Homo sapiens: one gene and its partners. The protein of the gene in region 7 purifies or fractionates together with the protein of the main gene of each other region. This does not show direct contact. Each region holds a gene or a part of one and is shown on either strand. Other genes may lie near its edges. The genes, in order: KIAA0232, MAP1S, EVA1C, NISCH, FBN2, MAP1B and DBF4B.

Region 1 (3,500 bases), on a different chromosome or scaffold from region 7:
CAGAGTGAGACTCTGTCTCAAAAAAAAAAAACAAAAAAAAAAAAACCTAAGACTATCAAGACTACAACAGCAGATCACTGAAGCAAGCAAGGGCCCTGTATGATGCAATTACAGGCTCATAAAGCCAACCCTGTGCCTTTATAAACTTTATGAGCTTAATATTCTACATGCAATATAAAAAATCTGTGCTTAATTGTATGAAATTATCTCACAGGACTACTTCAGAAAACAAAACATCCGGCCTTAACAAAAGTAGTAAAACTAATATAGCCACCAAGAAAATTTTTAACATGACAAATGATTATTCAGAGTAGTTAGAAACTTGTTGGTCAATTTTTTTAAGGCTGCTGAGAGTAAGGTGGTTACTCATGAAAGTTCACTAAGACATATGTACAAAAATGTTTACTGTAGCACTGTGTTACAAATAACAAAAACCTGGAAACTCTTCATATCAACTAGTTAAATAAATTCAGGCACCTTCACACAAGGTAATACTAGGCATATTAAAAAAAGAACATGGTAAAGCAAATCTGTACCTAAAGTAGATCTGTGTATTAGTCTGTTTTTGCAATGCTGATAAAGACATACCCAAGACTGGGTAATTTAGAAAGGAAAGAGGTTTCATTGACTTACAGTTCCACGTGGCTGCAGAGGCCTCACAATCATGGCAGAAGGCAAGGAGGAGCAAAGTCACCTCTTACATGGATGGTGACAGTCAAAAGAGGAGAGATTATGCAGGGAAACTCCCCTTTTTAAAACCATCAAATCTCATGAGACGTATTCACTATCATGAGAACAGCATGAGAAAGACCTGTCCCCATGATTCAATCACCTCCCACCAGGTCCCTCCTACAACATGTGGGAATTCAAGATGAGATTTGGGTGGGGACACAGCCAACCCGTATCAATCTGTATGTCTGATATGGAAAGCATTCCAAGATACAAAGTTTAGTGTTTGTTTAAATAATGACACAAGAACACTCTTTACCATGATTCCATTTTTTAAAATTTATCTGTGGTCTTCAAGGCAAGATGAATACAGGATAGGAAGGGAGATGAAGAAAGAGACTTATTGTTCATGTTAAAAAGTCGGCTTGAGTCCAGGCATAGTGGTTTACGCCTGTAATCCCAGCATTTTGGGAGGCAGAGGCAGGAGCATCGCTTGAGTTCAGGAGTTCCAGAACAGCCTGGGTAACGTGGTAAAACCCCATCTCTACAAAAAATTTAAAAATTAGCTGGGTGTGGTGGTGCATAACTGTAGTCCCAGTTACTCAGGAAGCTGAGGTGGGAGGATCAATTGAGCCTGGGAGGTGGCCAAGGCTACAGTGAGCCATAATTGTGCCACTGCACTCTAGCCTGGGTGACAGAATGAGACCCTGTCTCAAAAAAAAAAAAAAAAAAAAAAAAAAAAGGCTTTATGACAGCTACTTGTATTCCAATGTTTTGGCAAATCATACAAAACACATACTTTAACAAGTTTAATTTAAACTTTAAAGTATATAAAAACAGGCCAGGCACGGTGGCTCATGCCTGTAATCCAACACTTTGGGAGGCCAAGGCGGGCGGACTGCCTGAGCTCAGGAGTTCGAGACCAGCCTGGGCAACATGGCAAAACCCCATCTCTACTAAAAATACAAAAGATTATCTGGGCATGGTGGCACACACCTGTAGTCCCAGGTACTCAGGAGGCCAAGGCAGGAGAATCGCTTGAACCCGGGAGGTGGAGGTTGCAGTAAGCCAAGATTGTACCACTGGACTCCAGCCTGGGTGACAGAGCAAGACTGCCTCAAAAAAAAAAAAAAAAAAAAAAAGTATATAAAAACAAGAAACTCCTTCAGATGGTACTGGCAAAAGATTAACAAAAGTAGAATCAGGACTCAATTATCTATGATGGTAACTAACCAAAGAAAGCAGTGGCAAGGAAAACAACCAAAGAAAGAATTAAAAACATGTCTACTCTATTTCAACTTTCTCTCCATTAAAATATTTAGGGAAAATGCTAGCAAGGAGCAACATACTAATCAGACATCTAATAAAGGGCTTGCCTGGCATGGTGGCTCATACCCACAGTCCCAGCACTTTGAGAGGCCAAGGCGGGAGGATCGCTTGAGGCCAGGAGTTTGATATCAGCCTGGGCAACATGGCAAAACCCTGTCTCTACATAAAAAGAATAAAAATTAGCCAGGAGTGGTAACATGAGCATGTAGTCCCAGCTGAGGCAGGAGGATCACTTGAGCCCAGGAGGTCCTGGCTGTAGTGAGCTGTGATCGTGCCACCGCACTCCAGCCTCGGTGACAGAGTGAGACTCTGCCTCAAAAAAAAAAAAAAAAAAAAGACCTTTTTTAATTAAAAAAAAAAAATTAAATAAAAAAAGGAAGGGCTTGAAAAAAATCTCCAAACTGGGTGAACAATTCTGAAATAATTACTGCTGGTTTTCCCTATCTTCTCCCTATTCAACCAGGGGCAACACTGAGGAAGAGACAGATATGGAGAAAGCCTGGCAACAGGTAAGCACTTAGGGAAGATGTCAGAAACAGAAATCTCAACAGTCATTCCAAATACCAAAGAGGAAGTTTCTACTGCTTAATGTATATTAACAAGATGTAAGATTAAAGTGAAAACATTCGCTTTCCTGAAAATAACATACTGTATAGTGTAAACTTTGACAATTTCTATTTTCCACTCTTTTTTTTTTCTTGAGACAGGGTCTCGCTCAGTCACCCAGGCTGGAGTCCAGTGGTGCAATCATGGCTCACTGCAGCCTTGATCTCCTGGGCTCAAGCGATCCTCCTGCCTCAGCCTCCTAAGTAGCTGGGACTACAGACATGTGCCACCACACCTGGCTAATTTTTAAAATTTTTTTGTAGAAACAGGGTTTCACCATGTTGCCCAGGCACATCTCAAACTCCTGGGCTCAAGTGATCCTCCCACCTCGCTTTCCCAAAGTGCTGGAATTATAGGCAAGCCAGCATGCCTGGCCAATTTTCCAGACTTTCTTAAGCCATATGCAAAAAACCTGCTCATCTACAGACAGGTTTGCCTGTCTTCAGAATAATTTAGGACCACCATCATGAATCTGTTTATGCAAAAGCCCTCTCCAACTCAGTCACAAAATTAATGAAAGAACGTAGATGCAAGTTGAAAATGAGATGACTGGCCAGGCACGGTGGCTCACACCTGTAATCCCAGCACTTTGGGAGGCCGAGGCAGGAAGATCATGAGGTCAGGAGTTCAAGACCAACCTGGCCAACATGGTGAAACCCCGTCTCTATTAAAAAATAAAAAATTAGCCGGGCATGGTGGCACGCACCTGTAATCCCAGCTACTGGGGAGTCTGAGGCAGGAGAATCACTTGAACCCACGAGACAGAGGTTGCAGTAAGCCAAGATCACGCCACTATACTCCAACCTGGGTGACAGAGTAAAACTCAGTCTCGGGAAAAAAAAAAAAAGAAAAGGCCGGGCATGGTGGCTCAGTCCTGTAATCCCAGCACTTTGGGA
Region 2 (3,500 bases), on a different chromosome or scaffold from region 7:
TCAGCAAGGCCTGCTTAAAATGTGAGCCTTTGGCTGGTCTCTGGGAATTTGGATCTTAGGCAGAGGGTTCCCACCATTCCCTGTCTGAGAGGGGCTCCCTGTGCCTGGACTGGACCACACACCTGATTTCTCCTTTTTGGGGAGTCTAGAGTGTGGGTGCCAGGCAGAAGATGCCTATGTAATGGCCCAATAGGAAACCTGGGCATGCTGTGTCTAATGAGCTTCCATGAGGGACACACTGTTACAACTTGCTACTGGAGAAATGAAGCCTGTGGTGTGCAGCCCCACTGGGAGAGGATTCTGGAAGCTTCTGCCTGGTTTCCTTTGGACTTCACCCTATGTGCCTTTTCTCTTTGCTGATTTTGCTCTGCTATGAGTGCAACCATAGGCCGGGTCCTCCTAACCAATCAGTTACATAAAATACGCTATTTAAATTTTCAACTGTTTCATTTTACTTATTGTGGCTTCTAGAAACCCACAGTTGGCATACGTGCTCACCTGTCCAGGCACCTCAGAATGGCAAGTGCTTCAACACTGAGGTCAGTTTCCATTTCACAGGAGAAACTGAGCCCCGGAGAGGTGGGCACGGCTGAGGTCACGAAGTAATTACGAACAGGAGGACTTGGCTGGGTGCAGTGGCTCATGCCTGTAATCCCAGCACTTTGGGAGGCCAAGGTGGGCAGATCACCTGAGGTCCGGAGTTCGAGACCAGCCTGGCCAACATGGTGAAACCCCAACTCTACTAAAAATACAAAAATTAGCCAGGCGTGGTGGCAGGCACCTGTAATCCCACCTACTCGGGAGGCTGAGACAGGAGAATTGTTTGAACCCGGGAGTCAGAGGTTGCAGTCAGCCAAGATCGTGCCATTGCATTCTTGCCTGGGCAACAAGAACGAAATTCTGTCTCAAAAAAAAAAAAAAGAACAGAACTGGCAGGGCACCGTGGCTCACGCCAGTCATCCCAACACTTTGGGAGGCTGAGGTGGGCACACAGCTTGAGGCCAGGAGTTTGAAATCAGCCCAGGCAACATAGTAAGACCCTATCTCTACCAAAAACTTTAAAATTAGGCAGGGGTAGTGGCGGTGCCAGTAGTCCCAGCTACTGGAGAGGCTGAGGTGGGAGGGTGGCTTGAGCCCCATTGTTCAAGGCTGCAATGAGCTGTGACCACACCACTGCACTCCAGCTCAGAGACAGAGTGAGACCATCTCTTTTAAAAAAACTGAAAATGTAAAAACAGGGGGACGAGCTATGCTCTCCAGCCTAAGCAGCTGCTAACCCAGCCCAGGGCCCCAGCTCCAGTACTCACCCGACGGGCCTCGAGTGGCAGTCTTGGGGGTTGAGGACTTTCTGGACAGGGGTGCCCGGCCTCCCTTCTCACTGGGCTCACTCCGGGCACTGAGTGGTCGGCTGGCACGGTCCCCACCAGCAAGCCCCTTGGTTTTGGCAGCAGCCACTGGAGTGGCTTTGGGGGCGGCAGCGCGTGAGTTGGGGCGGGCCAGGGGCTTCCGGGTGCGGCTGACGTTCTCCGTTTGCCGTGCTGTCTTGGGGGGCAGCATCTCGGGGTCCACCATGCAGATGCTGGATGGGTCAGGCAGTGGTGGGGGGACCTTGAGGGGGTCAGGCAAAGGGTCGTGGCGAGGGACTCCAAAGCCCTCTGTGTCTTCGTCTGAGTCTGCCGCACCGGGGGCCAGGGGCACGGGATCCGAGTCAGACAGGGTGGGCAGGGACTCGCTGACCGATGTGGGTGGCGTCTCCTCGGCCCCCAGCCCACCTGCCCGTTCCTGTGACCGGGCACTGCTGTCATTCGAGCTGCCGGGGGACGCAGGTGCCGGTGCCATTGGCACCGCCTTGCGATGCTCAAATTCACAGGGTGACACCAGGCACAGGTCCACATCGTGTGGGGAAGCCGAGCGCCGCGCCCGGGGGCCACGCAGCGGGAGGCTCAGCCCAGCCTCACTGGTGGGGGCGGATGGCGGCAGCACCTGCTCAAAGGACACCGACAGGGACTCGTCCACCTCGGTCGAGTGCGGGGAGCCCACCTCTGCGGGTAGTGAGGGCGTGGTCACCGTGGGTGTGGTCACTGTGGGTGAGGCGTCTGGCCCGGCCTCCCCGCCCCGCAGTGGGCTCAGCGACAGCCGCTCGCTGCCCTCTGCGGGGCTCCGGTGGGACTCAGGGGAGGGTGTGCGTGGCCTTGGGATTGAGCTGGCGGCCAAAGGCAGCTCCAGTGCCTTCTCCTCCCCGGCTGGGATCGGCCCCAGCTCCAGGCTGGGCGTGGCCACCAGCTGGGAGGCCGGAGAGCCGCAGGCTGCACTGGGGGGGCTGGCTTCTCCACATCGGAGGCTGGGCGGGCTGCGGGGTCCATTTGCCACCGGCGGGAAGCCAGAGTGGGACGTGCTGGGCGCTTTGCGGGGCTTGGGTGCCGCCTGGGCATTCGTCTTCTTGAGGTTGGGCACAGAAGAGGCTGCCCGGCGCACCTCCCGCGGCTGGGTCCGGGAGACACTCGGTTTGGGGTCTTTCTTCAACTCCCGGGGGGTCTTGGCTTCTTTCTCAGTCTTGCGTGGGGCCTCAGCCCGTGCTGGCTCCTTGCGGGCCACCCCAGGGCGCTCCTGGCCAGGTCTAGGGTGGGTGGCCAGGAGGCCCTCTCTCTTCGAGCTGTCCCGGGAGCCCACGCTCTCTTTGCTCTCGGCTCGCCCCGGCCCCTCCAGGTCCTGGGGCGTCACCACGGGCTCTCGCAGGAACCTCAAGTGCTGCAGGCGGACCAGGCCGTCCAGGAGGCAGGCGGGCGGGGTGCAACCGGGGAACAGCACGCGCACCACCTTCTCGCCGGGGCCGGCGGGGTGCCACACCAGCAGGGCGCACACAGAGGCCAGCGTGCGCTCGGCGCCGGCGGAGGGCGGGTGCAGCACATACATGTCCAGCCGGCCCACGCCCATCTTCTCGAAGAGCACGGTGGGTTTGGCTGGCACGGGGCCGCGGCTGAGTGGCAGAGGCGTGATGCCCAGCTGCGCCAGGAGGCTCAGCGCCAGCTCCGCCTCATCCTCGCCGCGCGCCAGCCGCGACGCGGCCTCGCAGGCGTTGAAGAACACGACCCCCAGGTTGGGGGAGATGAGCCTGCGCAGCCTGTCGTCCCAGGAGCCCCCACCAGCAGCCACCTCGGAGCGCTCCGCCAGTTTGCGCCGCAGCAGGCTGTTGAGGCCGGGGAGGCTGTCGGCGCCAGGGTGGGTCACCAGCACGGCATCCACGCGGTCCAGGTGCCGCACCAGCTTCCAGAAACTGGACTTGGGGTTTGAGCCACCGTTGACCAGCACAGTGAAGCCATTGACGGCGAAGAAGGCGGCATCCCCGAGGCCTCCAGGGAAGATGTAGCAGCAGGGCCGGCCCAGCCTGAGGAAGCCCCCGGAGGTCGGGGGCTCCAGCAGCTCGAAGGGGGACGGTGGCTCCAGAGACTCAGCCACGTACTCCAGGAATTCGCACAGGCCCTCAGAGTTGGGCAGCTGCG
Region 3 (3,500 bases), on a different chromosome or scaffold from region 7:
TAATTCAGGACTGATGGTTGTTTTTTGTTTGTTTGTTTCTCAGAACCTGGAAAATATTATTTCGCTGTCTATGGCTCCCACTGTTTTTGTAGCAAAGACTTTATAGATAACATTTCCTTTACTATCTGATTGCTTTTAAGACTGTCACTTTGTCTTTAGTATTTTACAGTTTCAGTATGACACATTCAGGTATAAATTTATTTTATTTATCTTCCTTGGAATGCTTAACTCTGAATCTTTCATCAATCCTTAAAAATTAATCCTAGGACACCATCACTTTGAGTGTTGCCTCTCTCTCCTTTTCCCTACTTTCTTTTTCTGGAATACTGATCAGATGTATATTCAACCATCATTCCATCCTCCATGTCTTATGACTTTTCTTCCATGTTTTCCATATGTTTACCTGTTTTGCTTCATTCCGGATAATTTCTCCAGCTTTTTTTTCCACCTCACTGTTTCTCTCTTCAGCTATACCTAATCTGCTCTTCAACCTACCCATCAGGCTTTTCATGTCAATGAATATATTTTTCATGTTAGTAGATATCTTTGATTCTTTTACAAATACACCTGTTTTTTCTCGATAGCCTTTTGTTCCTTTCTCATGTTTTAGATTCCTTCTTAAATTTCTTTTTAGATTCCCTCTTTTTTTTTTTTTTTTTTTGAGACAGGGTCTTGCTCTGTTGCCCAGGCTGGAGTGCAGTGGCACAGTCTCAGCTCACTGCAACCTCCACCTCCCAGGTTCCAGTGATTCTCATGTCGCAGCCTTCCAACTAGCTGGGATTACAGGCACCCGCCACCACACCCAGCTAATTTTTGTATTTTTTAGTAGAGACAGGGCTTCGCCATGTTGGCCAGGCTGGTCTTGAACTCCTGACCTCAGGTGATCCACCCACGTCGGCCTCCCAAAGTGCTGGGATTACAGGCATGAGCCACCATGCCCAGACCTAGATTCTCTCTTTTATTACTTAAGAACCGTGTCATTGCTGCTGACTACTGCTCATATAATGTAATTTTGAATTGTGTGATCATAATCAGCAGCATTTTAGCTATAGGAATCTATAGATGGGCCTATATTGATGATATTCCCATGAAGGCAGTATCTGTGTGTTTGTTTTTGCCAGGTATCATGGGACAACTTTATTAGTTTCTCAACTTGGGTTTCCCAGTAAAGGTAATATGAATTCAAAACCCAGACTCTCCAAAAGGCAGAATTTTGATTACACCATCTCAAGAGACATTATTTTTTTCTCCAATCCTGAACCTAGGCTATGACAAGTTTCCTTGTCATCTTTCTTTACAAGAAGGCTGATTTGTTTTACATCCACCTTTTAATGAAGGCTTAGGTTTTCAAAGTCCTGGCTTTATATAGAGGTCTTTATTCTAATTCCTCACTATACAGTGGTCTCACTCCTTATCGCCTGCGCTCAGGCACCTGTTAAATCTTCGTTGTCAAGACCATCAAGCAACTCCAACGTAGCCATAGGGTTAGCACCAGCTATCATCCCTAGTTCTCTATTCTCTCTTCATTTTTGTTTCCTCACCACTCATTTATACATTAAAAGATTTTTCTTATATTTTATTCAGCATTTCTAGGTGTTTTGTTGGGGAAATAGTTTCAGAACACCAATTTCCAGAAACAAATTACAGACCCAATTCTATAATCAGTTCTTTGAGGCTAGATGGTACTATCTTTAAACAGGACAAGGAATGGACATTACTTATGTAAGTCCTGGGAAAGATTTGGCTCTAGGAAATGAAGAGATAAACATGACAGAAGTGCCACTGCTTTAAACTGCATGTAATTTATTTTGTTTTATTCCCTTGGTATTAGAAAGGCTACCTGGATTCAAATCCCCAAAAGTTACTAAATTGCTCTTTGCCTCAGTTTCTTGAACTTTTTATACTAGCATCTCCTTTATAGCTACAACTGGGAGGATTAAATGAGTTAACATGAAGTTCTTTGAACAGTGTCTGGCATAGAGTGCTTTATGTGCTTAATAAATTATTTTTAGGGCCAGGCACAGTGGCTCACTCCTGTAATCCCAGCACTTTGGGAGGCCAGGGCGGGTGGCTCTCTTGAGTCCAGGAGTTTGAGACCAGCCTGGGCAACATAGTGAGACCCTGTCTCTACAAAAAAAAAATGCCAAAAAAAATTAGCTAGGCCTGCTGGCATGTGACTATAGTCCCAACTACTAGGGAGTGCTGAGGTGGGAGGATGGCTTGAGCCCCAGAGGTTGAGGCTGCAGTGAGCCGTGATTGCACCACTGTATTCCAGCCTGGGTGACAGAGCAAGACCCTATCTCAAAAGTAAAAGATAATTTTTTTTCTTTTTTCTTGAGACAGGGTCTCGCTCTATTGCCCAGGCTGGAGTGTGGTGGCATGATCTTGGCTCACTGCAACCTCCGCTTCCCAGGCTCAAGCAATTCTCCTGCCTCAGCCTCCCGAGTGGCTGGGATTACAGGCGCCCACCACCATGCCTGGCTAATTTTTGTATTTTAAGTAGAGACAGGTTTCACCCTATGGGCCAGGCTGTAAAAATTTTTTAAAACCCTAAAAGTATTTTTAACTCACCAACTTTTTTACTCATACTGAGGGAAACCAAGTAAAGAAGTTACTGCCTCTGCTGAGCCGGTGGTGCACACATGGGAGCCAACTAAAGGGGTGGCAGAACGAGATACCCCAAGGGGCAAGGGGAAACTCAGAAGACACCAGAATCACTTGGTCAGCTGCCTTTCCAACCCAAGATTCTTTTTCCAGTACTAAAATCTTCATGACTGTAGGATTTAGGATTTATGTTATTATGAGAAACCATTTCCTTACAGAAGGATACAAATATACCAGCCTCATTAAAATAGTGACAAAGTATCATAAAACTTCAGACCTCCCCCCAGCCCCCACCCCCGCTCCCACCTTCTTGGTCCATTGCTCAGCTTCAGTGACAGTATGTTTTTTTGTTTGTTTGTTTGTTTTTGTTTTTTGTTTGTTTTTGTTTTTACAGGAACTCGCTCTGTCACCCAGGCTGAAGTGCAGAAGCACGATTTCGGCTCACTGCAACCTTCACCTCCTGGGTTCAAGTGATTCTCCTGCCTCAGTCTCCCGAGTAGCTGGGATTACAGGAGCATGCCACTATGCCCAGCTAATTTTTGTATTTTTAGTACAGATGGGGTTTCACCATTTTGGCCAGGCTGGTCTCAAACTCCTGACCTCAAATGATTCACCTGCCTCGGCCTCCCAAAGTGTTGGGATTACAGGCGTGAGCCACAGTGCCCGGCCATCAGTATGGATATTTAAAACCCAATAGGTACTGGGTTCAAATCCTGCTTCTAAATTTTATTAGCAGCTGTGGAGCTGGGGAGAGCAGTACGCAAGTCAGGCAATAGGGGTGGGTAACGAGGGAGCAATTGTTCTCTCATAGTACATTACCCTCAAAGTGGTGCCTCACTAAGAATTTTAAAGATATTAAGCCAACAGGATGGCTGTGAAGATCAGTGACCTCCAAA
Region 4 (3,482 bases), on a different chromosome or scaffold from region 7:
TTCGCCATGTTGGACAGTTACATTCTTAAAGGGCTGCTGAAGATCGTATGGACATGGTAGCCCATAAATCCCAAAATGTGTACTCTGACCCTTTACAGAAGCTTACTAACTCCCACTCTACATGTGAGGGCTGCGGTGGCCAAGAAGAGCTGGAATTTAAGTGTGAAGGTCCTAAGACCTGCCCCAGCCCACTTCCCTGCCCCGGAGGCCACCAGGGGTGACAAGTAGATTCATGCCCTGGAGTGTTCCTTCTCTCCGGGGCTTATGGCAGCAACTGAATGACTTAGAAGTCCATGGGAGTGCTTCTGTTGTGGGAACTCGTGTGGTCTGGGCATAGCTGTGCCAGGCACCTATGGTCCAAGCCCCTAGAAGCATAGACTCTGACCAAACTGGCGACCCAGCCTTCCAGCAGGCAGCACTGGCTCCCACCAGGGCCCTCATCCTGGGAACTGACTTGGCCATGTGGGAGGCTTGGGAGACCCATGGGTTGGTTTCTCAGGGTCAGGGTGTAGCAGTGGGCTCCAGATGTGGCAGGTGGGAGGTGGGAGGGGCCCCTCCCAGCATGCCACTGACCTGGCCTCTCCCTGCACAGCCCAGAACATGCCGAGCCGGAGGTCCAGGTGGTGCCGGGGTCTGGCCAGATCATCTTCCTGCCCTTCACCTGCATTGGCTACACGGCCACCAATCAGGACTTCATCCAGCGCCTGAGCACACTGATCCGGCAGGCCATCGAGCGGCAGCTGCCTGCCTGGATCGAGGCTGCCAACCAGCGGGAGGAGGGCCAGGGTGAACAGGGCGAGGAGGAGGATGAGGAGGAGGAAGAAGAGGAGGACGTGGCTGAGAACCGCTACTTTGAAATGGGGCCCCCAGACGTGGAGGAGGAGGAGGGAGGAGGCCAGGGGGAGGAAGAGGAGGAGGAAGAGGAGGATGAAGAGGCCGAGGAGGAGCGCCTGGCTCTGGAATGGGCCCTGGGCGCGGACGAGGACTTCCTGCTGGAGCACATCCGCATCCTCAAGGTGCTGTGGTGCTTCCTGATCCATGTGCAGGGCAGTATCCGCCAGTTCGCCGCCTGCCTTGTGCTCACCGACTTCGGCATCGCAGTCTTCGAGATCCCGCACCAGGAGTCTCGGGGCAGCAGCCAGCACATCCTCTCCTCCCTGCGCTTTGTCTTTTGCTTCCCGCATGGCGACCTCACCGAGTTTGGCTTCCTCATGCCGGAGCTGTGTCTGGTGCTCAAGGTACGGCACAGTGAGAACACGCTCTTCATTATCTCGGACGCCGCCAACCTGCACGAGTTCCACGCGGACCTGCGCTCATGCTTTGCACCCCAGCACATGGCCATGCTGTGTAGCCCCATCCTCTACGGCAGCCACACCAGCCTGCAGGAGTTCCTGCGCCAGCTGCTCACCTTCTACAAGGTGGCTGGCGGCTGCCAGGAGCGCAGCCAGGGCTGCTTCCCCGTCTACCTGGTCTACAGTGACAAGCGCATGGTGCAGACGGCCGCCGGGGACTACTCAGGCAACATCGAGTGGGCCAGCTGCACACTCTGTTCAGCCGTGCGGCGCTCCTGCTGCGCGCCCTCTGAGGCCGTCAAGTCCGCCGCCATCCCCTACTGGCTGTTGCTCACGCCCCAGCACCTCAACGTCATCAAGGCCGACTTCAACCCCATGCCCAACCGTGGCACCCACAACTGTCGCAACCGCAACAGCTTCAAGCTCAGCCGTGTGCCGCTCTCCACCGTGCTGCTGGACCCCACACGCAGCTGTACCCAGCCTCGGGGCGCCTTTGCTGATGGCCACGTGCTAGAGCTGCTCGTGGGGTACCGCTTTGTCACTGCCATCTTCGTGCTGCCCCACGAGAAGTTCCACTTCCTGCGCGTCTACAACCAGCTGCGGGCCTCGCTGCAGGACCTGAAGACTGTGGTCATCGCCAAGACCCCCGGGACGGGAGGCAGCCCCCAGGGCTCCTTTGCGGATGGCCAGCCTGCCGAGCGCAGGGCCAGGTGAGATCAAGCACAGCTCTCAGGGGCCCCGGGGGCATGGGTCTGGCATGTGTGTGATCTCAGCATCTGCGGCTAGTGTGGGCTGGGAGTTGCTGCGAGAGCTGGGCCCCCTCCCCCCCTGCCCCTCGCCCCCCCCGGGCCTCCCTCTACATCACCACCCCAGGTTTGGTGCCAGGCTGCTCCTTATCTCAGTGCTGTAGAAGAAGCCCAGGAAAGCTGTCCTCTCACAAAATGGGTTGGCCCAGCCTCTTGCCACCCATGAAGGGCAGGCCAAGGGGGCTGCCCCACCTTTGCCTGCCCAGTGGGAGAGCAACAGGCTGCAGCACACCGAGGCCAGGAGAGCTGTCACCCTGGCTGCTGTGCTCCTCTGGGCCCAAGCATGGCCTCTGGGCACTACCTCCTCCAGGGTCACAGTCCCACGGATGGCTCTGTGGGCCAGGATCTGCCTTAGGCTTCACCCACCTCAACATCTTGCTGTGTTGTTCAGGCTGGTCTCAAACTTTGGGCTCAAACAATCCTCCGCCTCAGCCTCCCAAAGTGCTGGGATTACAGACATGAGCCACCGTGCCCGGCCGTGCTGTTCTGTTCTCCAATAGAGAAGCTGGTGGAAGTCCCCAGTAACCCAGAGGTGATGTGTGATGCACACAGTCTCCTCACTCTGAAGCTGCACATGCGATGTGAATCTTCATTTGGGGTCCGCTGTTAATATGGTGTTTTTCGGGGGATACAGCAATGACCAGCGTCCCCAGGAGGTCCCAGCAGAGGCTCTGGCCCCGGCCCCAGCGGAAGTCCCAGCTCCAGCCCCTGCAGCAGCCTCAGCCTCAGGCCCAGCGAAGACTCCGGCCCCAGCAGAGGCCTCAACTTCAGCTTTGGTCCCAGAGGAGACGCCAGTGGAAGCTCCAGCCCCACCCCCAGCCGAGGCCCCTGCCCAGTACCCGAGTGAGCACCTCATCCAGGCCACCTCGGAGGAGAATCAGATCCCCTCGCACTTGCCTGCCTGCCCGTCGCTCCGGCACGTCGCCAGCCTGCGGGGCAGCGCCATCATCGAGCTCTTCCACAGCAGCATTGCTGAGGTAGCGGCCCGGGTGTGGGTGCCAGCTATGGCACGGCCAGTCCTGAGGGCGAGGCCAAGCTTGGCTTCAGGTCAGCCTCAGGTCCCTGGACTTCCCTGATGTCGGAGTCCTCAGCTGAGCTGCTCACAGCTTTGAGGACCTGGGCAGTGAGGTCCTGAGTTGCCCTCCCCTGGCCATTTGTGCTGTGTCACCACCTCCTGTGCCACTTCCAGCCCCAGGTAGACCTCCCACCAACAGCCATCTCCCACCCCTCTCTTCCTCTCTGCCTTGAAGCATACGGATTCATTGGTGAGCCAAGAGGGGCTTCCCATGTCTCCTTGTGGAAGCTGTGGGCATGTCCCTGGTATGTGCAGGTTGCTAGGGTGGTGGAGCTGACAGGAGGCCCCCCGTCTTCAGGTTGAAAACGA
Region 5 (3,500 bases), on a different chromosome or scaffold from region 7:
CTGAGGCCTGAGGGAAAGGCCCATCCTCACATTCTACAAAAGGCTCAATTAAGATTGGTTCATAGCTTTTTTTTTTTTCATATCAATGTAGCTAAGTTGTATGATGATAGACAAATTAATTTATGGCTCGTTGCCATAATTCACTGTATTTTTCCAGGAGGGTTGATTAAATATAAATTGGGAAAATGGGGTAGTGTGAAAACCTAAAATATTAAGTAAGTTATTAGTGAAAATATTGATAAGAATTACATTTTACATAGGAAAAATTGGTAAGCTAAAATGTGACCATTAACTTAATATTGATCAGTAATTTTTAAATGTTGGACTATATGGTATGAAGAAGTTCAAAGGTTATGCAGCTGCCATTCTTGCTTCCATCCCCCCACTTGATCACATGGTATTTCAATTCTTTTAGGGGCCTGTCTCACCACTAAACTGGGGGCTTCTGGAGACAAGGTCCACATCTTACTCATCATTACAGCCATAAGTTCTAGCTTACAGTAGAATCTCAATATTTTAATTGTGAAATGAGTGAATGCTTCTAACTGAACATTAAACATGTAGCGTAATTATTTCCATTATAACTTTTCTTTTGGAACATGTTTGATAAATGTATCTGGAAGAAATAGGATGTAATGAGGAGAACAACCAGCAGCTGCACTGCTTTAAGAATCTCTGAATAGTTACTAATTTGAAAGAAGCTACAAAGACAAAGGCTTTCCCAACCTGCATTCACTTTAAAGTTGGCATTAAAACTTAGCCTAAGTGACATAGGACAAAAGCAGGCTTTAAAGAAATTCCAATTGAAGAATGCGAATTGCAATAAAAAAAAAAAAAAAAAAATATATATATATATATATATATATATATATATATATATGTGCCAAGGAAATTATTTTTTGCCACTTTAGAATAATTTCTTTTGATGCTTTATATTTTTTAATATGGGGATTTTTTTCTTTTGAAGAAAGATGTATCTGTGTTATATAAATGCATATTTGGGATATTTTCTTTATTTCTAAGTTTTGCATAAATGGGGATTTAGAGAATCACCTATGCTTTGTTCAGTCATCTAAGTAATATAAATTCATTGAAAAAATAGATTTATTAATTAATAGATATTCTTGCCTACTCTAGATATTGATGAGTGTTTTGCACATCCTGGTGTGTGTGGGCCTGGGACCTGCTATAACACCCTGGGAAATTACACCTGCATTTGCCCACCTGAGTACATGCAGGTCAATGGAGGCCACAACTGCATGGGTAGGTAAAGAACTCTGAGATTAATTAGAGCACAGTTGTTGACTTCACACATAAAGCACTTACGTCTCAGAATTATTGTTTGGAAGTTTGGAAGTTCAGTCTTCGTGAATTGAGATATTTCAGAGTCTTGCAAGCTGCTGGCTTAGTATCAAGTTTTTGACCTTTGGGTATACATTTAAATTTTTAAAAGCATGAGTCTAATGTAGAAAATTTCCTCAAATGTTATATATTCTTAAATTTTTCATCTCCATTCATATAGTGTGAACATTAATTTACAAATAAAAGAACATTTAAATTTTAATGCTTTATTTTTTTAATTAAATAAATGATTTTGAGAGAAAAACAAATATGTATTAACATTGTCTCCCAAGAAAATTATAAGTGAAAACCTTTAAGGATAAAGGAGAGATGTTAATCTAAAAATGATTTATGTTTAAGGAGTTATTTTAAGATAGCTTCAAATGACTAAAAAGGGTTTCCGAGTTGTGTTCATCAGGAAAGCTTGATGTCTACAGCTGTGTGGGCTTCATTATAAACTACTCGTGGATACAAATGGCTAGTTTCTTTGTTTTTCTTTATATAGACATGAGAAAAAGCTTTTGCTACCGAAGCTATAATGGAACCACTTGTGAGAATGAGTTGCCTTTCAATGTGACAAAAAGGATGTGCTGCTGCACATATAATGTGGGCAAAGCCTGGAACAAACCTTGTGAACCATGCCCAACTCCAGGAACAGGTAAGCACACGGCTCGTGCATCTGCTGACTGCCACATCAGTGATACACGCATATATCTAACAGTATAGTCAAAGTCACTGCATGCTAAAACTAGAGATGCTCAGTTCCAAAAATTCCCAAGAGCATCATATGGTTCTGTTTCCCAAGTGATCCTCTTTGGGATTCAAACACTAACTTCTGAGACATTATGTTGGATAGGCTTGTGAATCCTGAAAATAAGATCCATTGCTGAAGAGTTAGAGTTGATAGCATTAGTCCATTTAAACTCATTATCTTAAACTGTGCTTGTCAATTATTGATTTATTCATCAAACAAATATTTCTTGAGTAACTACTGTATGTCACTGTGCTAGACATGGAAAGTATAATATTTGGAGAAAAACTAAATTCAATAAGGATTTTTTTTTAGTTCAGCCGTGGAAAATATGCAAAAAGTGTTTTTTATGAGCGAATTTTACATAAAAGCAACCCATTGTCATAATGTGCCTTTTACATCTTCTTCCTCAGACATCAGTGAAATTTTTAGGCAAAAAATAGAGCTTGTCTTCACTTGGTCATGTTTTTTTCACAAGACAGTTTCTTTTGAAAGAAAAAATGAAAGATAATAGAGATAAGAGCAAAAATGCTTGTCTTAAAATTGCTGTCCATCAGGCTCTCTTTTATGACCTGGAGAATGGCAACTTTTAATAACTATAGATACTAAGAGTTGAACCAGTAGGCCAAATAAGAAACAGTGATTATGCATTTGTTACCAAATATTACTTAGGGTATATGTATTTAAATGTTCCATTTAATGTATTGATGAAATTAAGGAGAGAAATGATGAAAAGCAACACATAGGCCTTTTTCAGTGGCTCCAATTCACTGGTCAAATGGATTTTCTTAGCCTTATCTTGCCATTATTATGTTCCATAAAATTAAATAGAAACATTCCTACAATTCTCAACTTTAAAACTCCATAGTTACAAATTTAAGATCATTGATTTGGGGAATTAAAATGGCACTTTCTTTGTGAGAAGAAGCGAAAGGCTTGGAGTTGAGAGACGTGTCTGTATTTAAATCAAAACTCTTAAGATACTTATTGTGGAACCTCCTGCAGAGTATGTATCCTTTCTGAAACTAATTTCTCATGTATAAAATAGGAATAATAAATAATTACAGTGACTAATTCATATGGGTGCAATGACAATTAGGGAGATTATACATATAAATTATAATTTGAAGATTTCCAGACAATTAGAAACCATTAAGTTGAGCATCTGTGGTCTTTCTATCTGTTCTCAATACTCGGTATATATTGATGGATGAAATATACAATATCCCTGACCTGATAGCACTTGGAATATAGTATGCAGTTTAAGTTTTATATAATACTGTTTTCAGGAGTTTTACTCACTTGTATAGCAGTGAGCGTCAGAAGCATTTTTCATCTTGCAAATTAGAATTCTTTTAAATTTCCATTGATTTGGTTAATTATGTGTAAGAATACTTCTTATAGTCCC
Region 6 (3,500 bases), on a different chromosome or scaffold from region 7:
CTTGATGTTTGGCTCTGGATTTTTGAGATTTTCAGGTACATTGAGAAATACAACTCCTAAGTCAGGGGAGATGAGGTTTTTCATCCAGTCACTATTTGTGGTGGAGCCCTGGGACTGTTCTTCCTCGAGCTCTGCAATTTTCCGCTGTAACATGCTGTTTATTCCAGGCAAATTGTCATCCCCAATGTGGGTGAGCAGGATGGAGTCCACTCGGTCTAAGTGTCGGATGAGCTTCCAGAAGCAGGATTTTCTCTCTGATCCGCCATTGATGAGCATATTGAAACCATTCACTGCAAACAAGGCAGAATCGCCCCTCCCTCCTGGAAAAATATAACAGCAGGGCTTGGAGAGCTTCAGAAATCCACCCGATGTGGGAGGTTCCAAGATGTCAAAGGGAGATGGGACTTCCACTGATTCTGAGAGATACTCGGTAAACTCAGAAAGTCCTTCCATTTCTGGCAAGATAGAAGCTGAATTGAGTTTAATATTGATGAAGTCTTGGAGATTGTGTCTGTCAAGATTGGAGTTCTTCCAGTCCCCTTCTTCAGGACAGAACAGGGTTAAGCTGGCTTTGTTGGCAGGATGGGTGGTGCTTAGTAACTCCCCGATCTGGGTTTTAAAGAAAGAAAGAAAGAAAGAAAAGGTGTAAGTGATTATCATCACTGATCCATCATCTCCAGCTATAACTATGTGTTACAGGATCACAGGATGCACATAGGACCAGTTTCAGACATGCACTCTCATAGTGATGTTGGTTGCTTAAATGCTGAAATACTTCCCTACTGGAAGGTGAACAGCCTTTGTCCTGAGCCCCGCTGCTACTGGCTTCTACCTCAACCAGTACCCACTCGCCCTGGCACCTCCCCAACAACCCCTCCACCATCTATTCCTGCCCAGCAGGGGAATGCCAGTACTCTGCTCCAGTTCTAACACCAGTGACCACCTGGGCAACTGAGGATTGTGCTGCAGTGGTTATGAAACACTTTGAATATTACCCCTAGAATAAAGGCAAAGATGCCCTTTAAAAAAAAACGTTAAACTATCACAAGAGAAAGCTGTCTGGGTCATTTCACCACTAATAAAAAATATTTTCTTTTATTCCACTAGACTTGGCAAAAAAAAAAAAAAAAAAGGCCTGATGGATACCTTAAAGAAATTCAGATTAACAGGGCACTTGTTGTGGCCTCCTTTCAGGATCTGGCATGTAAAAAAGAAAAAACCTTGGTGGGTTTTTCCCCATAGGAGACAAGAAGTTACGGATTGCCTATTACTACAAAAAATTACTGGTTTCTGGCATCAGTGCACGCTGATTGAAACATGAGTGGGTCACCCAGCATATTCTCTGCAGATACAAATACTTTTTTATTAAAGCCATGACATTAAAGTGGTTTGGCCAAGTTCGTTCCCCATTTGCTCATGTTTAACTCCACAGTGAGCCACTCTGTTCTCTTACTGCTCCCATTCTTTTCAGGGCAAGTTGGGTGTGAGCAGCTAAGATCAAATGTGGCTGAAACATTTTTCAACACATTGTTTAGTACTTCCCAAGGATGTAAACATAGAAAAGCAAATCAGGACCAAAACAGAAATTGTGGTTTAATAAAAACACTACTTGTCTCTCTCACTCCATATTATGGCCATATATTTCATGGTCTTAGCCTAGCAAATTAGTGATGGAGAATCATGCCATCAACTCCAATATTCTTTCCGTCTCAGTAAAGCTCACAAATCAGCTCAGAGTTTCGACTGAAAAGGGCTCTGTATTCTGGATGACAAATGATCAAGGGGTAAAGCCAAGGTTTCATTTGGTCCAGGCATCCCTGAGCCAGCAGGTCTGAACTCTTACCTTCTAGTATTAGATTAGTTTCCTCTATCTCCTGACTATCAGCATTCTGAGGCTACTATTATGAATGTGTGTAAGAATAATTTATAGAATCTGAGTTTTCCTATATTCGACTGCAATATTGCAGTAAAATAGTCATTTTTGTTTTGTTAGCATATTAGTCCTAAGCATAACATTTTATGTAAAGGGCCGCAAAATAACAAAATAATAAAACTTTGCTGTTTTTCTGTGACTTCACAATTTTCTGTAAAAAGGATAAGAATCAACTCCTGTTTTTGGGAGCTAAGAAAAGTGAAAAAGCAAATGGTAATACCATCTTTGGGTAGAGGGGACAGGCATCTTTGCTCAAATGATTTGCTGGCCAAAGCAAACATAGGGCATCAAATATGGTTTTTTGTACAATAGTTAGCAGAGACTCTCATCACAATCACTATAGCACAATTAAAAGTCTCTAGATCCCAATTTTCACACAAAGCACATGCAAACTATTCATGTTTTATAATATGTTTTAGGGGGCAAATCTAGAATAACTGCTGTATCTTTAATAGTGAAACTTAAAAATTAAGTTTAGTTCATTTTAATTTTTGAAATTCCACCCTAGCTGAGAGGTGTGGCAGCCAAGGGTATAATCCAGCTGTGAGTAGGGGGCATTCAATCACTGGCTCTTTTTATGTAAAGTATGTAATTACCAGGTTGAAGCAGAAGGTAGAAAGACTTAAGGAATATCTTCCTACTTTCCGTCTTTTCACCTCTATCCAGAGAATTTCTATGAAATGCAGGAAATGACCCCAAAACAAAACAAGATTGCACAGAATTCTGAGAAGTCAGAGGTCATGAAAGATAGCCAAGAGACACTGGTGAATGAACAACCGTGATGTACAAGGCAAAGCAGAAAAGAAAGCCAGCATTGCTTTGACAGGTTTCTTTCCAGAGAAGGAAAATCTGGTCCCTCTGAAGAAACAGCAGCACATTCTGAATGATGAGACAAGAATGCAGAGACAGGGCTGGACAGAGCCCTCAGTCATAAAACAGACAGATGGAATTGGGCAGAGGGAGGAGGAGGAAGAACAACTCCTACATCCTTGGAACTACACAACAGAATGAAGCCCGTGTTTTCCCCCACAGCCTCTTTCCAGACCTGTGGGCCAACAAGCACAGTAGAGAGTGCCTCAAGGGCAAAGACAGGGTCTTAAGAGTGGCCAGCCCACGGCAGCACCTGACCAAGCTTATTCAATGAATAGATGAGAACCATAAGGAGGATCCAACAATGTTAGCAGTGGCAAGGAAGCTTGTGACTAGTTCTTAGACTTGGAAACTGAGGCTTCTTCTGAACAAATTGGGAAATCATCACCATGATAAATGGTAACTATTATAACCCACTACTCTAAACATTTCTGATAGCAGGAAATATATCTTCTGTATCTTTGTATCTTAGTTATCTTTGTTTCCTCAATACATAATCAGGCTCAGTAGATGTTTGTTGATCTGTGTGCCAAACTTGGCCAGTTCAACACATGTTATCTTCCTGGAGTGGGTACTTCAGATGTAACCACACTGAGTGCTACCCTGGTTCTTACAAAGTTGGATGACAGATGCAACAAGGAGGAATATGCTTTGGGACAAAGATAATCTTTTTTGTTAATTACTTTTTCTGATTAAA
Region 7 (3,050 bases):
TCCTAGCGAGGTAGCAACTATGATTATCTCCATTTTTCGTATTTATTTATTTATTTATTTATTTTCGAGACAGTCTCGCCCTGTTGCCCAGGCTGGAGTGCAGTGGCACAATCTCGGCTCACTGCAACCTCTGCCTCCCAGGTTCAAGTGATTCTCCTGCCTCAGCCTCCCGAGTAGCTGGGATTACAGGCATGCCAGCATGCCCGGCTAACTTTTGTATTTTTAGTAGAGATGGGGTTTCACTATGTTGGCCAGGCTGGTCTCGAACTCCTGACCTCAAATGATCCGCCCGCCTCAGCCTCCCAAAGTGCAGGGATTACAGGCGTGAGCCACCGTGCCCAGCCTAGATTACCTCCATTTTTTAGATCAAGAAAACAGTTTGAGCTGGGCACAGCTGAAACTCCCCTGGGAAGGGGAGCCAAGATCCAGGATGAGAAGGAGTGCTCGGGTATACAGCACTCCTGCTGGTGGCAGGATAGGGAAAGACATAAAAGATTTGCTGGCAGTCACAGTATTTTATTATTGGAAAGGGTCCTGAAATCATCTCATCCAAGCCCCTTACTTAAAGACGAGGAAACTGAGGCCCGAGTAATAAAGGCATTTTTCTGAGGTCACAGTGAGTTGGAGGCAGCTAGCTCCTGCATTCCACCCAGCAGAAGGGAGTTGGGGTGGAGCTACCAATCGGTCACATCTGCCGAGAAGTGAAAGGCTCAGCGAGAAGAGGCAAGAACAAAGGCCTGGGGACCTAGTCTGAGTAAAGTAGTTAGGGCTGGAGGGCTCTTCAGGTGTCTCGGAGCTGACTCAGGGCAGACGGCAAGGCCTGTGCTGAATGAACGAACGAGGGAATGGGCAATGGTGAGGAAGGGCAGGGGGACAGGAGAACCAGGCCACTGAGGGGCTGCTGCGACCAAGGGAGCCAGGCTTCAAGGAGGAAAGAAAGGAGAAAAGGAACCAACTTTGGTCACCAGTAGCCTGTCCATGACCTTGGAATAGATGATCTTAGTGGAATGCTTCAGGCAGAGCTACCCAGGAAGGAAGTGTGGAAGGGAAGGAGGTGAAGAGGAGGCGGTAGGTATAGACCGCAGGAAGGAGCCAGAGAACAGAAGGTGGGAGCCTTCAAGTATTTGAAGTCGATTTACTGAATCAACTCAAGTGTTTTCCAGGAGAGGAGCATGGCATTTTGGGGCAGAGGGGAAAGGTGGCAAGTCTGAGAAGGAAACCAACAAGAGTGGTTGGCGAGGTGGGCTGGAGGGCCAGGGACAGACAGTGTGACTTGTGGAGGGAGGACACCTCTTCAGAAAGAAACGGCAACATGTTGAAAAGGGACTGACTGCAAGATAAGGCAATGCCCACTGGGTCTGGGTAAAAGTCATCTGGTGCGATGTGGAAAGGGGGCTGGAGTGGAAAGGAGTCTGAGCAGTGCTCACGCCAAGGAGCCACTGCGGGACCTCATTCACATCAAGCAGCACCCATCCATCCTGGGTCAAGTCTCAGGTGTTCTGGGTTCACCTCTAACCTGAGTCTACAGCCAGGAAGCCGCAATGGAGAAATGGCTGAGGAGTGTTCCAGCCTTGGGGTTTGGCCTGGCAGAGATGTCCAAGGTCATGATCATTGAGATAGGAGGGGAAGGCAAGGGTACACGGATGTGAGGTTCGGGGAATGGGTCCTGCAGTTGACAATGAGGGCACCCGAACCCGGCACCACAGGCTTTGTGTGAGCAGCAGGTAAAGGTATCCAAGTCTGAGACAGGGGCAAGGGGAAACTTCCTCATGCAGAGGGGTGGTGTCATGGGGAATGAGGCAACCCCATGTCACAAAAGGAAAGGGACGAACCCAGCAGCGTGCAGACATAAGCCACGGTCTGGCTTCAGGGAAGAGGAGTGGGCCCTTAACAGGAATGTCCGCCGGGGCAAAGGAGTTTTCTTGGGAGGGATGGAGGGGCATGTCCTCTGCAGGCGACCACTCCCCAGGCAGCAGAGCCAAGGAAGTGACCAGATGAGACTGGGTAAAGGAGGCTGGGCAGGGACAGAGGCAGCCCTGCTCCCTGGAGCCCTTGGGCAAGGCCGGCAGGAGGGTTGTGGCACTCACACATGTGTGACTTGCAGGAGGTCCCATCACACCATCTAGTGATTCTGTCCATCGCTGCTGGCCCGCAGCCCTGCCTTGGGTCACTGGAGGGCAGATCAAGGACCGACATATGGCATTCCAGCCCCATCTCTTTGCTATTTGTAATTAACAAATTTATTTACATTTCCTGAACCAAAATTAATTGTAAAATTTAACAGGAAGGGGGTAACATGACCTCTAAGGTGGGCTGTACACATAGTTGCTCTATTTCCAAACTAATAACTTGAGTCCTCACCCATAGCTGGGCCCCCCCTTCTTCCTTTGAAAGGAGACACAGAATAGCATCAGGCTTCCGGAAGCTTCAACATTTAAAGAGACAACTCTTTAAATGCACGGACGCAGAGAAGGGTGAGAAGAATCACGGTACAAATTGTAATGAAAGAAAAAGTGGCCAGAGAATCGATAGCAAACCCATTTCTGTCTCCAGATTAATGGCTTGGCTGCCAGAAATGGGGGGAGGTCCTTGGGGAAGGAGAGGAGGGAGCGAGGGAGGAGGGTGATGTGGAAGTTGGCAGGTGACACACTGGCCCCGGAACAGCCGAACTTCGGGCAGGCAGCTCAAGCTGAGGAGGCAGAGAAGGGGCGAGAGGGGTCCCAGAGGGGGCTCTGGCCACATCCTGGGCTCAGGGGAAAGGTCAGTGCTGGGCCCCAACTAAGTGCCTGGGGGAGGGAGCTCTGTGAGTGGTGCAGCCCAAGCCCCTCCTCTGCTTCATATGTTCCTGAGGATCTGTGTGCGGGAGCGTGGGGGGCTGGGGGAGGGGACAAACACAGTCATTTTGGAAAGCAGGAGCGGCCACATGCTCGTGAGAAAGGAGGCCGGGGTTGGGGGTGGAGCACACCAACAGCTAACCCGCGGCTCTGCAGAGAGGCAAGGGCCTGTGGAGGGCCAGGAAGCCGGGCCAGGACTCCTGCTGCCCCAGCTCC

Evidence for each region.
Region 1: the proteins of DBF4B (region 7) and KIAA0232 purify together in Homo sapiens (co-immunoprecipitation; one large-scale study listed by IntAct). This does not show direct contact.
Region 2: the proteins of DBF4B (region 7) and MAP1S purify together in Homo sapiens (affinity purification with mass spectrometry; 3 studies listed by BioGRID and IntAct, with this or other methods). This does not show direct contact.
Region 3: the proteins of DBF4B (region 7) and EVA1C purify together in Homo sapiens (affinity purification with mass spectrometry; 3 studies listed by BioGRID and IntAct, with this or other methods). This does not show direct contact.
Region 4: the proteins of DBF4B (region 7) and NISCH purify together in Homo sapiens (co-immunoprecipitation; one large-scale study listed by IntAct). This does not show direct contact.
Region 5: the proteins of DBF4B (region 7) and FBN2 purify together in Homo sapiens (co-immunoprecipitation; one large-scale study listed by IntAct). This does not show direct contact.
Region 6: the proteins of DBF4B (region 7) and MAP1B purify together in Homo sapiens (affinity purification with mass spectrometry; 3 studies listed by BioGRID and IntAct, with this or other methods). This does not show direct contact.

The regions. Positions count from the first base shown.
Region 1 is NC_000004.12:6,789,227-6,792,726, reverse strand, and holds part of KIAA0232 (uncharacterized protein KIAA0232), read right to left. Parts: intron 1-3,500.
Region 2 is NC_000019.10:17,725,980-17,729,479, reverse strand, and holds part of MAP1S (microtubule-associated protein 1S), read right to left. Parts: coding exon 1,308-3,500; intron 1-1,307. UniProt on the Homo sapiens protein: Microtubule-associated protein that mediates aggregation of mitochondria resulting in cell death and genomic destruction (MAGD). Plays a role in anchoring the microtubule organizing center to the centrosomes. Binds to DNA. Plays a role in apoptosis.
Region 3 is NC_000021.9:32,419,206-32,422,705, reverse strand, and holds part of EVA1C (protein eva-1 homolog C isoform 1 precursor), read right to left. Parts: intron 2,884-3,500; exon of another isoform or gene 1-2,883. UniProt on the Homo sapiens protein: Binds heparin.
Region 4 is NC_000003.12:52,486,604-52,490,085, forward strand, and holds part of NISCH (nischarin), read left to right. Parts: intron 1-592; coding exon 593-2,002; intron 2,003-2,732; coding exon 2,733-3,075; intron 3,076-3,471; coding exon 3,472-3,482. UniProt on the Homo sapiens protein: Acts either as the functional imidazoline-1 receptor (I1R) candidate or as a membrane-associated mediator of the I1R signaling.
Region 5 is NC_000005.10:128,307,746-128,311,245, reverse strand, and holds part of FBN2 (fibrillin-2 precursor), read left to right. Parts: intron 1-1,137; coding exon 1,138-1,263; intron 1,264-1,846; coding exon 1,847-1,999; intron 2,000-3,500.
Region 6 is NC_000005.10:72,190,975-72,194,474, reverse strand, and holds part of MAP1B (microtubule-associated protein 1B), read right to left. Parts: intron 610-3,500; coding exon 1-609. UniProt on the Homo sapiens protein: Facilitates tyrosination of alpha-tubulin in neuronal microtubules. Phosphorylated MAP1B is required for proper microtubule dynamics and plays a role in the cytoskeletal changes that accompany neuronal differentiation and neurite extension.
Region 7 is NC_000017.11:44,749,715-44,752,764, reverse strand, and holds the end of DBF4B (protein DBF4 homolog B), read right to left. Parts: exon of another isoform or gene 2,218-3,050; intron 2,171-2,217; coding exon 1,512-2,170; 3' UTR 826-1,511; coding exon of another isoform or gene 802-825; 3' UTR 501-801; downstream 1-500. UniProt on the Homo sapiens protein: Regulatory subunit for CDC7 which activates its kinase activity thereby playing a central role in DNA replication and cell proliferation. Required for progression of S and M phases.